3 linked regions of the Homo sapiens genome follow. The protein of the gene in region 2 purifies or fractionates together with the protein of the main gene of each other region. This does not show direct contact. Each region holds a gene or a part of one and is shown on either strand. Other genes may lie near its edges. The genes, in order: PUSL1, GCHFR and HBS1L.

Region 1 (3,747 bases), on a different chromosome or scaffold from region 2:
CCCCCTGGGGACGGCCCCAGAACAGAGCCTACCTGTCTATACAGGAAAGACTGGCTCTCAAACTCCAGGTTCCAGAACCGCAGCTTCCTGGAAAAATACGTACCTGTAGGTGTCTGTGGGGCAGTGTTTGCCATCCTCAGCCTACTATGTGGCCTTGGACGGGAGAGTGACAGGGTGGGCCTAAAGACGAGCCTGGTTCCCACTAGCTTGGCCACCAGGGGCCCTGGCTGATCTCCTGCCCCCAGTGAGGCCCATTGGAGGGGCTTAAAACCAGAGAAACAATGCTTGGGCAAGGAGGCAGCAGGACCCTGGAGGCTGGGCAGGTAGCCTGGCCATCCCAGAGGGGCTTGCCCTGGGCCCTCACCTAGGGTCCTGGTGCAGGGTCTGGGAACGTGGCTGGTGCGGGTGCCAGAGACCCCCAGTCCTGTACCTGCTGCTCTGCCACAGAAGTCTGGGGCTGGCAGAAGTTCTTCCCCCCTTCAGGGCTCACCCCAATAGGGGAGGTTCTGGTCAGAAGCTGCCACCTGGTGGGTGGCCCTCGGGACAGTGCTGGGGGCAGCAGAAACCACCCCACCAGAACCACTGGCACCAGTGAGACCTTTCCAGTAGCTGCCAACATTCTTCCATCAGGCATGGCAGGGGTTTTTCAGAGACAAGCAGCCTTCCCTGTTCTCCGCTCCCCAGCCTGGGGGGAGGGCACAGCTGGAGGCTGGGGGGCGTCCGGGCGAATCCCCTCCAGCTGTCCAGGTCCTGAGGACTCCCGGCTGCCTGCCTCCCGCCTCACCTTGCCTTAAAACTGGGGGAGGTGCTGGAGCTAAAATCAGCACGTGACTTGAGGGCAGGGCCACAGCCCAGGGGCCCTTCCTCACCTGCTCTCCTCGGGGGTGACCAAGGGGCTGGCTTGGCCTGGGGAAACGGAGACCCGGCGCAGCGTTCGCACGGGGCTCGGCACCGGGCTGCCAGCGGACTGGAAGGCGCTGAAGTCGTGTGTGCCGAGGAGGTGCTGGGCGGCTTCCTGCATGGCGACCATATCCAGGCAGCTTCAGGGACCAGGGTGACCGTCAGGAGGGTGGGGCCGGCCTGCCCGCCCCCTCCCCGCTGTCAGGGCCACACTCACTCTGCCGGGAGAGTCCAGCATAGGTTGCGTTCAAACACCGGCAGCTCATCACGCCGGTGACAGCCAGTGGCCAGGCGGTACAGGTAGGTCCGGGACGTGGCTGCGTGACGAGCGTGGAAGTCGCTGGGCACTCGGAAGGCCCGCAGGACCCTATGGCGGCAGGTAAAGCTCACCGGAGGAACGACCCCGCCCGCCCGCGGTGTCACATTGGCTCTCCTTCCCCCTCGAGCTCCGACCAGACAAGGAAGTCTGTCCAGATCTCCAGCCTCCGCCCGCGACAGATGGAGTCGGGAAGGCACAGCCCCAGGGCTGCTTAGGTCGCGGGCTCACCTGATGGCCGGGTGCCGCAGGTGTGTGTTGAGGGCCTCGGCCAGGACCTCGGGCGGGAAGGGCGGCCGGCCTGAGCGGCGCTGGACGTCCAGGTGCGCCGCGTTGCTCAGGGCGTGGACCCCGGCGTCCGTGCGGCTGGAGATGGTGAACCTGACCGGCTCCACGGAATTCAGCCGCTCGGCGGCCTCCTGCAGGACCGAGCCGCGGGGCGGGCGGGTGAGCGAGGCCGGACCCCGGGGACGCGCGGGCGGGAGCCTCCCCCTTACCCCTCACCGGGCGTCCCGTGACCGGCTGAGCGCACCTCCAGGTAGTTCTGGACCCCGACGGCGCGCTGAGTGCCCCTGACGGCCGCGACCCCGCTGCGGGCAGAAGCGGGCGGAGGTTACCGGGGGCGCCCTGCCCTGGGGTCTCCGCCGCCGTCTGAGGCCAGGGCCGCTTCCTTCCCCGAACGTTTGGAACCCGCGTCCAGAGACATCCGCCTGCCCGCCCGCGCCCTCCTTCCCGCCTCCGCCCGGGCCCACGTGGCGCCCGCCGCTGCGCCTGGGAAACCTACTTAAAGTCGGTGCCCACGTACTGGAAGTACACAAGATAGCGCGCGCGCACGGAGCCTGAGGCCGGCGCCGAACTCATGGCGGAGCCCAGCCGGTGGCGTCAGAGGCGGCCTCCAGCGCAGGAATCCTGCGCGCGCGCGGACGCGGCCTGGTCACGCCCCCCCCCCCTCCCCCCCGGCCCCGGCCGCTCTTGCGCCTGCGCGGTGGCACCGCGCCACGGCGGCCAGAGTCGGGGAGCGGAGGCGGGGCCGGGCTTAGGGAGCGGCTGCAAAGTGCCGGCCCGCCGCCGAGCGCAGGCGCTCTACCTCTATCGCGGCGCCCCGGGAGGCGCGCACCAACCACGCGGTCACCCCGCGCTCTCGCGGGCGTGCATTCGTTCACTCGCTCATTCATTCGCCGCCGCCCACACTCCCCGAGCGCGCCCGTTCGCCGCGTTGCGGCCAAGTCCTCCCAGACGTGGTTTTTGCAAACGCCCTGAGTTGCGCAACGGCCGGGATGGTTGGAGCGGGCGGGCCCGCGCCCTCCCCGCGCCCTCCCCGCGCCCCACATTTCCACCGACTGTCCCCGGAGACGGCCGTGGCAGGCCCCGCCTCACTTCCGGACCGGGGTGGTCCCTGGACGCTGCGAGAGGCGTTTGGCGACGCTCCCCGGCGGTGACAGCGGGCGGCGCGCGCGGGCGGCGGACCTTGGCGACGCTCCCCGGCAGTGACAGCGGGCGGTGCGCGCGGGCGGCTGACTTTGGCGACGCTCCCCGGCGGTGACAGGCGGGGCGGGGCGCGGCGCGGCGGCCTCATTCCGGGGCGGGCGGGCGCCGAGGCGGCGCGGGCGGGACGAGCGGTCCGGGCCGGCGCGGCTGCCGCTCGGCGCCGCGGTCCTCGTGCCAGTGAGCGCCGCGGCCGCCGCAGCCATGACCGTGGAGTTCGAGGAGTGCGTCAAGGACTCCCCGCGCTTCAGGTGCGCCGCCCGGGGCCGCCGGGGTGGGCGCAGGCCGGGGGCGTCGCTGTCGCCTTTGTGCCCGGCGGCGGGGTGGGGAGGTCAGCGCCGGGCCGGGCCGCGGCCGCCGGGGAGGGGCTGGAGGACCGGCCTCGGACAAAGCGGCGGCCCCGCCCCGCCATGCCCCGGGGGTTGGAACAAAAGACGCTCCTGCCCTGTGCGGCCGCCCCGGGTGGAGGGCGTGCGCGTGGGCAGCCGTGGGCACCTCGGGACCGTCCGCCCCCGCTCTGTGTCTGCACCTCCACTGGGCTGAGCCCCTCCCGGGCCCTGCAGTCCAGCTCTGGCCAGGGTCGTCTGGGTCCGTGGGGGCGTCGGCCCCTGGTCTCTGACTTGATCCTGTGTCCAGAGCAGCGCGTGGGGAACAGGCAGCTGGAGCCGCGTTTAAGGCCTGGGGTAGGGTGCTTGGAAACGTGAAGTGGTTTGAATGACCCAGGGGCTTGGAGGGGTGGCGGCCGAGAAGAGCGGCGGGGAAGGTCAGGTAGGGGGTAGGGGTTGTGTGCACACCGAGTCTGCATGTTTTCCATCATTCGTGGCGTGCAGGCGTGTACACCTGCGTGAACTACATGTTCACAGACGTGTGCACAAGTGTGCATCGGCTTTGCTTGGTGGACATTTGGCAAACGACAATGGAGGCAAAGAAACCTCTCTGCATCCCCAAGTGCGCACCTGCGTGAGGCCCCCTCCTCTGCACGAGCTCGTGCGGGGTGCGCTCTTGTGAACTTTGCCCCTCTGCGTGCCTCCCTCCGGACACCAGGC
Region 2 (3,747 bases):
AGGGCTTAGCTTTGCGACTCATGCAGATCCTCACGACAAAAACCTTTCTCTCTGTGCCTGTCTGTCCTTGATGGGGTCCAGCTTAGGAGAGGGCAGGGCAAGGAACAGTCTGCTAGTGGAGTCCTAGACCCAGGGAACGGACTCTGTTTCTGCGGTTCCAGTAAGGATGTGGAAAGCTTTCAGAGCAAGCCTCGTGGGGGAGAGGGGGGATGTTGGAGAGGCTACAGATGGGACCAACTCCTCCGGAGAACAGAGCCCCAGGATGCAGGCAGGGGGCTCTGATGCTGGGCCCTGTCCCTGGGCTTGGAGGTTGTATAAAGGGAGCAGAGGCAGGTCTAGGGGCTGGCAGGGAGAGGATACTGAGGGAGGCTGCTACTTACAAGTTGTTTCCCAAGGCTCTTCTCTTTGAAGCCCCCAGATGCTGCATCAGCTCTGGATCCGACTGTTCATCGCCCACCATAGTGGGGCCCACCTCCTGCAAGGTAAGCCACAGTGGCTGCTTGGCTGGCTGCCAGGAGGAGGTGGAAGGTCTTGCCTGTCCTTCCTCCCCTGCCTGCTAGCCCTGAGTAAGGTTCAGGTAAAGGCTACAGAGAGTAGCAAGGATTCTTAGGGGCTGAGCACAAGCTGTGAAGGGGTGGAGCCCATCAATGATCAGGAGGAGCAATGTAGGCGCCCTCCCTAGTGCCTTAAAGCTCAGCTTTAGCCAGGCAAAGTATCACGAGCCTATAGTTCCAGCTACTGAGGCTGAGGTGGGAGGATCGCTTGAGGTGGGAGGAGTTTGAGGCTGCAGTGAGCCATGATTGCACCACTGCACTCCAGCCTGGGTGACAGAGTGAGACTCCATTTCAAAAAAACAAAACAAAATAAACATGTAAATGAAAGAAGCCAGACTCAGATCACATTACCACAGAAAGGTAATTAGTGGTTATCTAGGGCTGAGGGACTTGGGGGAAATCAAGAGTGTCTGCCAGTGGGTACAGGGTTTCCTTTTGGGGTATTAGAAATGTTCTAAAACTGATTATGGTGATGGTTGCACAACTCTGAGTACACTAAAGAAACAACAACACTGAATTGTACACTTTAAATCAAAGAATTTATGGTATGCACATTACATATCAATAAAGCCATATCTTTTAAGAAATAAGAATCACTTTGGGGGGCCATTTCCAAGTATGGGTTCCCAAGCCCCAGACAGAGTTTTAGGAGGTCTGGGAAGGGACCCAGGAATCCACATTTTGGCAGCTGAGCAGATGGCTGCTTCACAAACCGCTGCCCAGGGCTCTGCAAGAGCTCTCTGTTGCGTGGTGAACCCACCAAGGGGGTTGTGTACCCTTTGCTGGTTCACCCCAGCACTGGGCAGTGAGCAAGGGCAGAGAGCACCTTGCTGCCCGTCATGTCTTTCTGAAGCTAAAAGGGGACTCCTGAGGGGCAATCAGAACCTTTTTACAGATAAGGAAACTGCGCCCAGAGAAAGGAACGTGACTTCTAACTCATGGTGTTCCCACCTCTAACTGCACAGCCCCTTCTCGCCTTCCTTTTTTCCAAGCAGGGTGTTCTTTCTTTTCTTCCTTCCCTAAAGCTTCAGGGATAGCCCTTCCTGGAAGTGCCTAAGGGTGCAGCTAGTTGCTGTTTATGGGTCAAGGACTTGGCACCGGGGTTTTAGCGCCTTGGCAGGTCCTTATCTTTTCCAAACCTCTTTCTCTCAGGTTATTCGCCCTTTTTTCCCCTGCGGAGCGGCTCTGTGCAGGGCACTAGGTGCTGCGCGTGAGGCCAGGGCTCCCTGGGTCTCTCCCGCCGACAGGTAGGACAGGAGCCGGAAGCGCCCGGAGGTCGCCCTGTTGCCGGGACGCACGTACCCGGGCCCCTTCGCGGCAATAAAGGCTTCAGGCCGGCCAGAGCTCGCTGAGTCCCGGAAGCCGAGCTGAGCCCGCTTCTCCACTCCCTCTCCCCGGCCAAGGGGGCGTGTCTGGGCGGGTTCCCGGTCCAGTCCCCGGTGGGTGCAGCCCAGGAGGGAGGCATGAAGGTGCAGTCGCAGCCCCCTAGGGCCTGGTCCCGGCTCCAAGTCGCCAGGCGGCCGGTACTCACCATGCGGATCTGGGTGCTGATGAGCAGGTAGGGCATGGTGCACGCGTCCCGGCCTGGCTCCCACCGGGGGCTCTAGGCTGGACGCCGACTCCAGCCCTTCTCGCGTCGGGACTGCGACGCGCAGCTGGGAGTCCCGTTACTCCGGCTCTGGCCACAGGCGGCGTCAATCCCGGGGCACCTTGCCCGTGACCGCCGTGGCCGCCAATCAGGAGCGGCTGCCGTGACGCGCCCTGCAGTCGGCGGTTCGGGGCCCGCCCCCGCCCTCCCGGCGGCGGACTTGGACCCCGGGGCCCACCTGAGGCTTCCGCCGAGTGATCCAGTTGCGGGAAGGTGGAGTGCGGGGAGGAGGGGGCGGTCCCACGACCTGGAAGGACACTATCCTGAAGCTCCAGCGTCCTCCAGGACGCTTAGTGCTGTTTTCTTTGCAGCCTGTGATCTTACTGCGTCCCCGCGCGCGTGTTGCCCCCGCGCCCGCTTCTTGAACACTTCAGGCCAGGTTCCAAAGTCCCCTGCCAGGCAGAGCCCAGAGCAAACGGCGTCCTCACGGAGGCCTCTCCAGGCCCCAGCCCACCCCTCTCAGAGACGCCTCGACAGCTTCAACGGGGCCCCACTTCCCCTCGCCAAGACATGCGCTCCAGAGATTCCTTAAGCGCTGAGGAGGCCGGGGCACGAGGCTCGGAGCTAGCCCTGAAGGCGACAACTAAAATACCACCCAGGGCGCACTGTGCATTCCCCCTCCCAGACTCTAATTCCAGCACAGAGGCGGATCCTTGCATTTCTGTGGACCCGCAGGAAAGTCTGTAAAGGAACCGCGCGCTTGGCTGGGTGCCAGGTCTGGAGTGACTGAATGGATGGAACCTGGCCTTCCCTCCCCTGAGCTTCCCGCGCAGCTGGACAGACGCGGCGCACGCGCAGGAGGTCACTGGGCAACACCTGGGGCAAATGAAACAACTTCCCCCGCACCAGCCACCAATGAGCGGCTGCGAGTTCCCAACCGTGTGTCCACGCCCCTCATCCGCAGTTATCAAAATCTGACAACTCATCCTTCTTTATCTGCCTTGTTGTGATTGGTTTTCTTTTTTCTTTTCTTTTTTTTTTTTTTTTTTGGACATGGAGTTTCGCTCTTATTGTCCAGGCCGGAGCGCAATGGCGCGATCTCCGCTCACCGCAATCTCCGCCTCCCAGGTTCAAGCGATTATCCTGCCTCAGCCTCCTGAGTAGCTGGGATTACAGGCCTGCGCCACGACGCCCGGCTAATTTTGTATTTTTAGTAGAGACGGCGTTTCTCCATTTTGGTCAGGCTGGTGGCGAACTCCCGACCTCAGGTGATCCACCCGCCTTGGCCTCCCAAAGAGCTGGGATTACAGGCGTGAGCCACCGCATCCGGCCTGTGATTGGTTTTCTAGAAAATAAAGCAAAACAAAAACAGCCTGTAGGTAGCCTTCCCTCCCATGGGAGGGTAATAATCTTCACTTTTTAAGAGGGGCCTTTATAGGGGATGCTGCCGTTCCAACACTTTGACAGACGTGGAGAGAGCTATAAGGGAAGCAGGAAGTTGTAATCCTAAACGTTCCTTAACTGGTCTAATTTATTATTCTGTAGTTCCTACCCCTGCCCTCTTACCCACTGACCTAACAAGTTAGCCAGAGAGATAAAACACAT
Region 3 (3,647 bases), on a different chromosome or scaffold from region 2:
TAGATTATGTGTGTCCGATGTTTTCAAAGGTAAGTGCTACCTTTGTAGTGCTTCTTCAGTATAGCCCCTTTTCCCCATTCCCTCCTAACCTCCTTTCCTGGACTAAGTTATGACAGTATATTGCCTTCAGAGTCTCTCCTCTCCATGCCCAAGTAAGGATCACTGTCAGATTAATCTTAAAATGCACAGATTTAGTCACTTAGCTTCCCTGTCCAGGAAAACCTTCAGTTTACTCACCATTTCTCATCTTTCAAGCATAAGAAAACCTTGCCTTTTGTCTTTCTAACTTTATAGTTTTTTTTTCTCCCATTAGATTCCTTTAGTTTTCAAATCCTTCAACCAAACTGGATTGTTTATTGTTTCTTAACCACACAGGATGTGTTTATTGCCACATGTCTACCCGTGCTTCCCTGTTGTATTGTTCTTTCTCTTTACTTGTCCATTTCCTCCCCATCTGTAACAGTCTGGGTCCAGTTAGGAGTTAGATACCATACATAGGTGAAATGGGAAATGTAATATAAAGAATTATTAACTATGATAAAAATGCAACTAAAAGATATACAGAAACTTTATAGATAGGGCTGAGGAAGGACCAACGTAGAAGAGGTTCAGAGCTTGCTGGAAGAGATGATATATTAAATACCTAAGAATATATCTAACTTAATAAGGGCAAGATCCTATATAGAAGACTATAAAGTGGAAATACAATTTAAAAACTCAATAAATAAAAGGATATAAGATTTATTATTACAATAATAAAAACTGTAAGGATGTCATTTGTCCTCTAAATCTCCATTGTCACAGAGCCAGCAATGCAGAGTGAATGTGGAACTGAGCAGCAGTAAATTGGTAACCGGCGTGCTTACCTGCGCACATGCCCTGACGCGTCCCTCTGTATTCTCTGTATCCTCTGTCATTGTGCTTTCATGCAGCATTATAATTTTTTCTATGCTGTCTGTTTATCCCACTTAGATTATGAACTCCTTGAAGGCAAGTACTATCTCTTCTTTATCTATATCTGCGGCCCTAGCCCAGTGCCTGGCACATAATACATTTAACACATGAATAAAAAAATGAATGAATGAAGGTGCTTTGAAAAAATCATGCAATGAAATCAAAATTTATCATTATCATTATTAGCTTCCAGTGTTCTAGTAATAGAGGAAATATGCTAATAGTTTCCAAGATGCCCATTGTTTATCAAGAATACAAGAGGTGGTTACTTTTCTTTGATTAACAGTGTTTGCTGACTGTACTTTCTCACCTTCTGTTCCCCCTTCAGGCTGCTTCCTGGCTTCCGCCTACGCTGCTCTCCTGAGTGTGTTCCTCCTGAGGTCATGAAATGACCTCTTGGTTGCCAAAGTCAATATACACTTTCAATTCTATCTTACTTGAATTTGGCATTGGTTCTGATGCTGGTAGCCACATCCACCTTGAAACTCCTCCCTTGGTTTCTGTGACCTGCTTTCTCCTGTTAACCTGTCTATTTCTCTGACCTGTCTATCTCTGACCTCTCTATATCTTCTCTATGGGCTCCTCATTCTCTGTCTTTTAAACAGTGTTCTGCTGCCTCAGTCCTCTTCTTAGTCTTCAAGTTCCTTTTGAACTGACATCCATGAGTGTCTCTACCTTCTGCATCTTGATGCTTCCCAAATCTGTATCTCCAACCCAAACCTTTTCACTCATTCTCCACACACTTGTCTAAGCACTACTGGACATCTCTCCTGGGAGAGTGTTCTTTTAGGGGTACCATTCTCATGGAATGTGGTGTGATTGGTCCCCCCGGAATGCAACTTCTGCATGTGTGTGTCTCATAGACACTTCAGATTTACCAAGCCTAAAATGGATCTTGTCCTTAGTTTCATATCTCACAGTTAATGCATCATCATCTCACATTTTCCCCTTTCTGTCATTAGTCTTCACTTTCCTTACCACTCCAAACTTGTTATTCCTTATTCCCGAATTCTTGAGTTTATTCCCTTTCTGTAGTAAGTTTGTGCATTTGTATCAGCCTCTACTCTAAGACAGAAATACCATCACCTTACTTCTCCGGTCACAATATTTACTGGCTTCCTATTACTTAACTGCAGGATGAAATTTAAACCCTAAGCGTGATTTATGAGACCCCTTTATTATTTCTCCCTTGCCTATCTCTGTTGCCTCCTGTCTTACCTTTTCTTCATTATTCTATATGGTCCCCTCCCCATGGCCCCCACAAGTGACACATGACTCTTAGCCCATCCCACATTTGGTTATGCCTTTGCCCACACAGTTTCCTGGGGCAGCAGTGTCTTCCTTTTTCTCCCTACTCATGCATACAAGCTACCTAATAAACACTTATTCCTTCTTCAGAGTGCCAGATGTCTATTCTCACCATCATGGATTCTTTGGTGCACCTTTGTGTTTCTATTGTATATTTTACATATTATTTGTCTCAGGACAATGTAATTGTTTCCATCTTTCTCTTCACTAGTATAATATCTTTATGGGCAGGGACTTACATTTTTATTTTTTTTTATCCCCAGAGTTTAGTATAATATCTGGTACTACGTATTTATTATTTCTCAATAAATATTTGAGAAAGGAATGAACCTTTCTTTGGTAATATGAGTATTTTTATTTGCAAAAAAAAAAAGTAAAGTGTGGTATGCCATATTTAGTAGAGATGTTAATTCTGAAATGATTATTATTTAATGTCCATTGAACTACTAGTTTTATATGACTACTTGAGAACTAAGTATAGTTAACGGTATTAATCATCAGATAACATTGCTGTATGAACCATAAGATTTTGGTATGTTTTGCAGATCAAGGATCTGGATTTTGCATAACTGGTAAAATAGAAGCTGGTTATATCCAAACTGGTGACCGACTACTGGCAATGCCTCCTAATGAAACTTGTACCGTGAAAGGTATTTATCTGCAAGATGCTTTTGCTAAACAAGCCTTAAGTTGAGACAGCAGATTTTTAAAAAGTGGTTTAGTTACAACTCCAAAGTAAGTAACCTCTTACTGAAATTGTAACTGACTGTCAAAATGATACTGACTGTTGAAGATTAAAATGTGAAAACATTAAACGATTTTTTTCTGTTGTGATTGTGTCTGTATATATATGTACATAAACATTCTAACTGTAGTAGCATTCTATTTTTGACACAGATCTGAGAAGCCTGGTTAGGATTTAATCAGATATGTATAGATACCTCACAGATGTATTTGGAATAATATTCTGTAGCAGAAATTAAATCTAGTCCCAGCCTTACCCTAACTAGTCAGTGGCAAAGCAGCCTTCTACAGTCTGTTACTTTGAAATGTATGTTTCAGAATAACTATAAATTAACAGCTTTGATCATGTTTATGCCAAAAATGTAGGTATATTTTATAGGAAGATATAAGTAACATTCAAATGGAGAAAAACCCAATGTTGAAAAGAGAAATTGAACTAGTTTAAATTGCCAGTCACTGTTTCTGCATATAGATCTAATTTTTTTCATAATGACTGATAATTGTTTCTGTCTTCTAATATATACACACATATATATATTTATGTATATGTATACATGTTATATGTTACATGTACATGTATATTATTTTCCAGATTTTGACTAAAACTTTCTAATTCTATACCTCTTTTATTCTGGCTTCCA

What was found.
Region 1: the proteins of GCHFR (region 2) and PUSL1 purify together in Homo sapiens (affinity purification with mass spectrometry; 2 studies listed by BioGRID and IntAct, with this or other methods). This does not show direct contact.
Region 3: the proteins of GCHFR (region 2) and HBS1L purify together in Homo sapiens (affinity purification with mass spectrometry; 2 studies listed by BioGRID and IntAct, with this or other methods). This does not show direct contact.

The regions. Positions count from the first base shown.
Region 1 is NC_000001.11:1,306,974-1,310,720, reverse strand, and holds the start of PUSL1 (tRNA pseudouridine synthase-like 1), read right to left. Parts: upstream 2,125-3,747; 5' UTR 2,078-2,124; coding exon 2,001-2,077; intron 1,807-2,000; coding exon 1,749-1,806; intron 1,636-1,748; coding exon 1,448-1,635; intron 1,268-1,447; coding exon 1,118-1,267; intron 1,041-1,117; coding exon 870-1,040; intron 88-869; coding exon 33-87; intron 1-32. Other genes in the region: ACAP3 (arf-GAP with coiled-coil, ANK repeat and PH domain-containing protein 3), read left to right, coding at 2,906-2,952.
Region 2 is NC_000015.10:40,762,555-40,766,301, reverse strand, and holds the start of GCHFR (GTP cyclohydrolase 1 feedback regulatory protein), read right to left. Parts: upstream 2,235-3,747; 5' UTR 2,122-2,234; coding exon 2,086-2,121; intron 1,142-2,085; exon of another isoform or gene 476-1,141; coding exon 381-475; exon of another isoform or gene 1-380. UniProt on the Homo sapiens protein: Mediates tetrahydrobiopterin inhibition of GTP cyclohydrolase 1. This inhibition is reversed by L-phenylalanine.
Region 3 is NC_000006.12:134,981,723-134,985,369, reverse strand, and holds part of HBS1L (HBS1-like protein), read left to right. Parts: coding exon 1-29; intron 30-2,807; coding exon 2,808-2,912; intron 2,913-3,647. UniProt on the Homo sapiens protein: GTPase component of the Pelota-HBS1L complex, a complex that recognizes stalled ribosomes and triggers the No-Go Decay (NGD) pathway.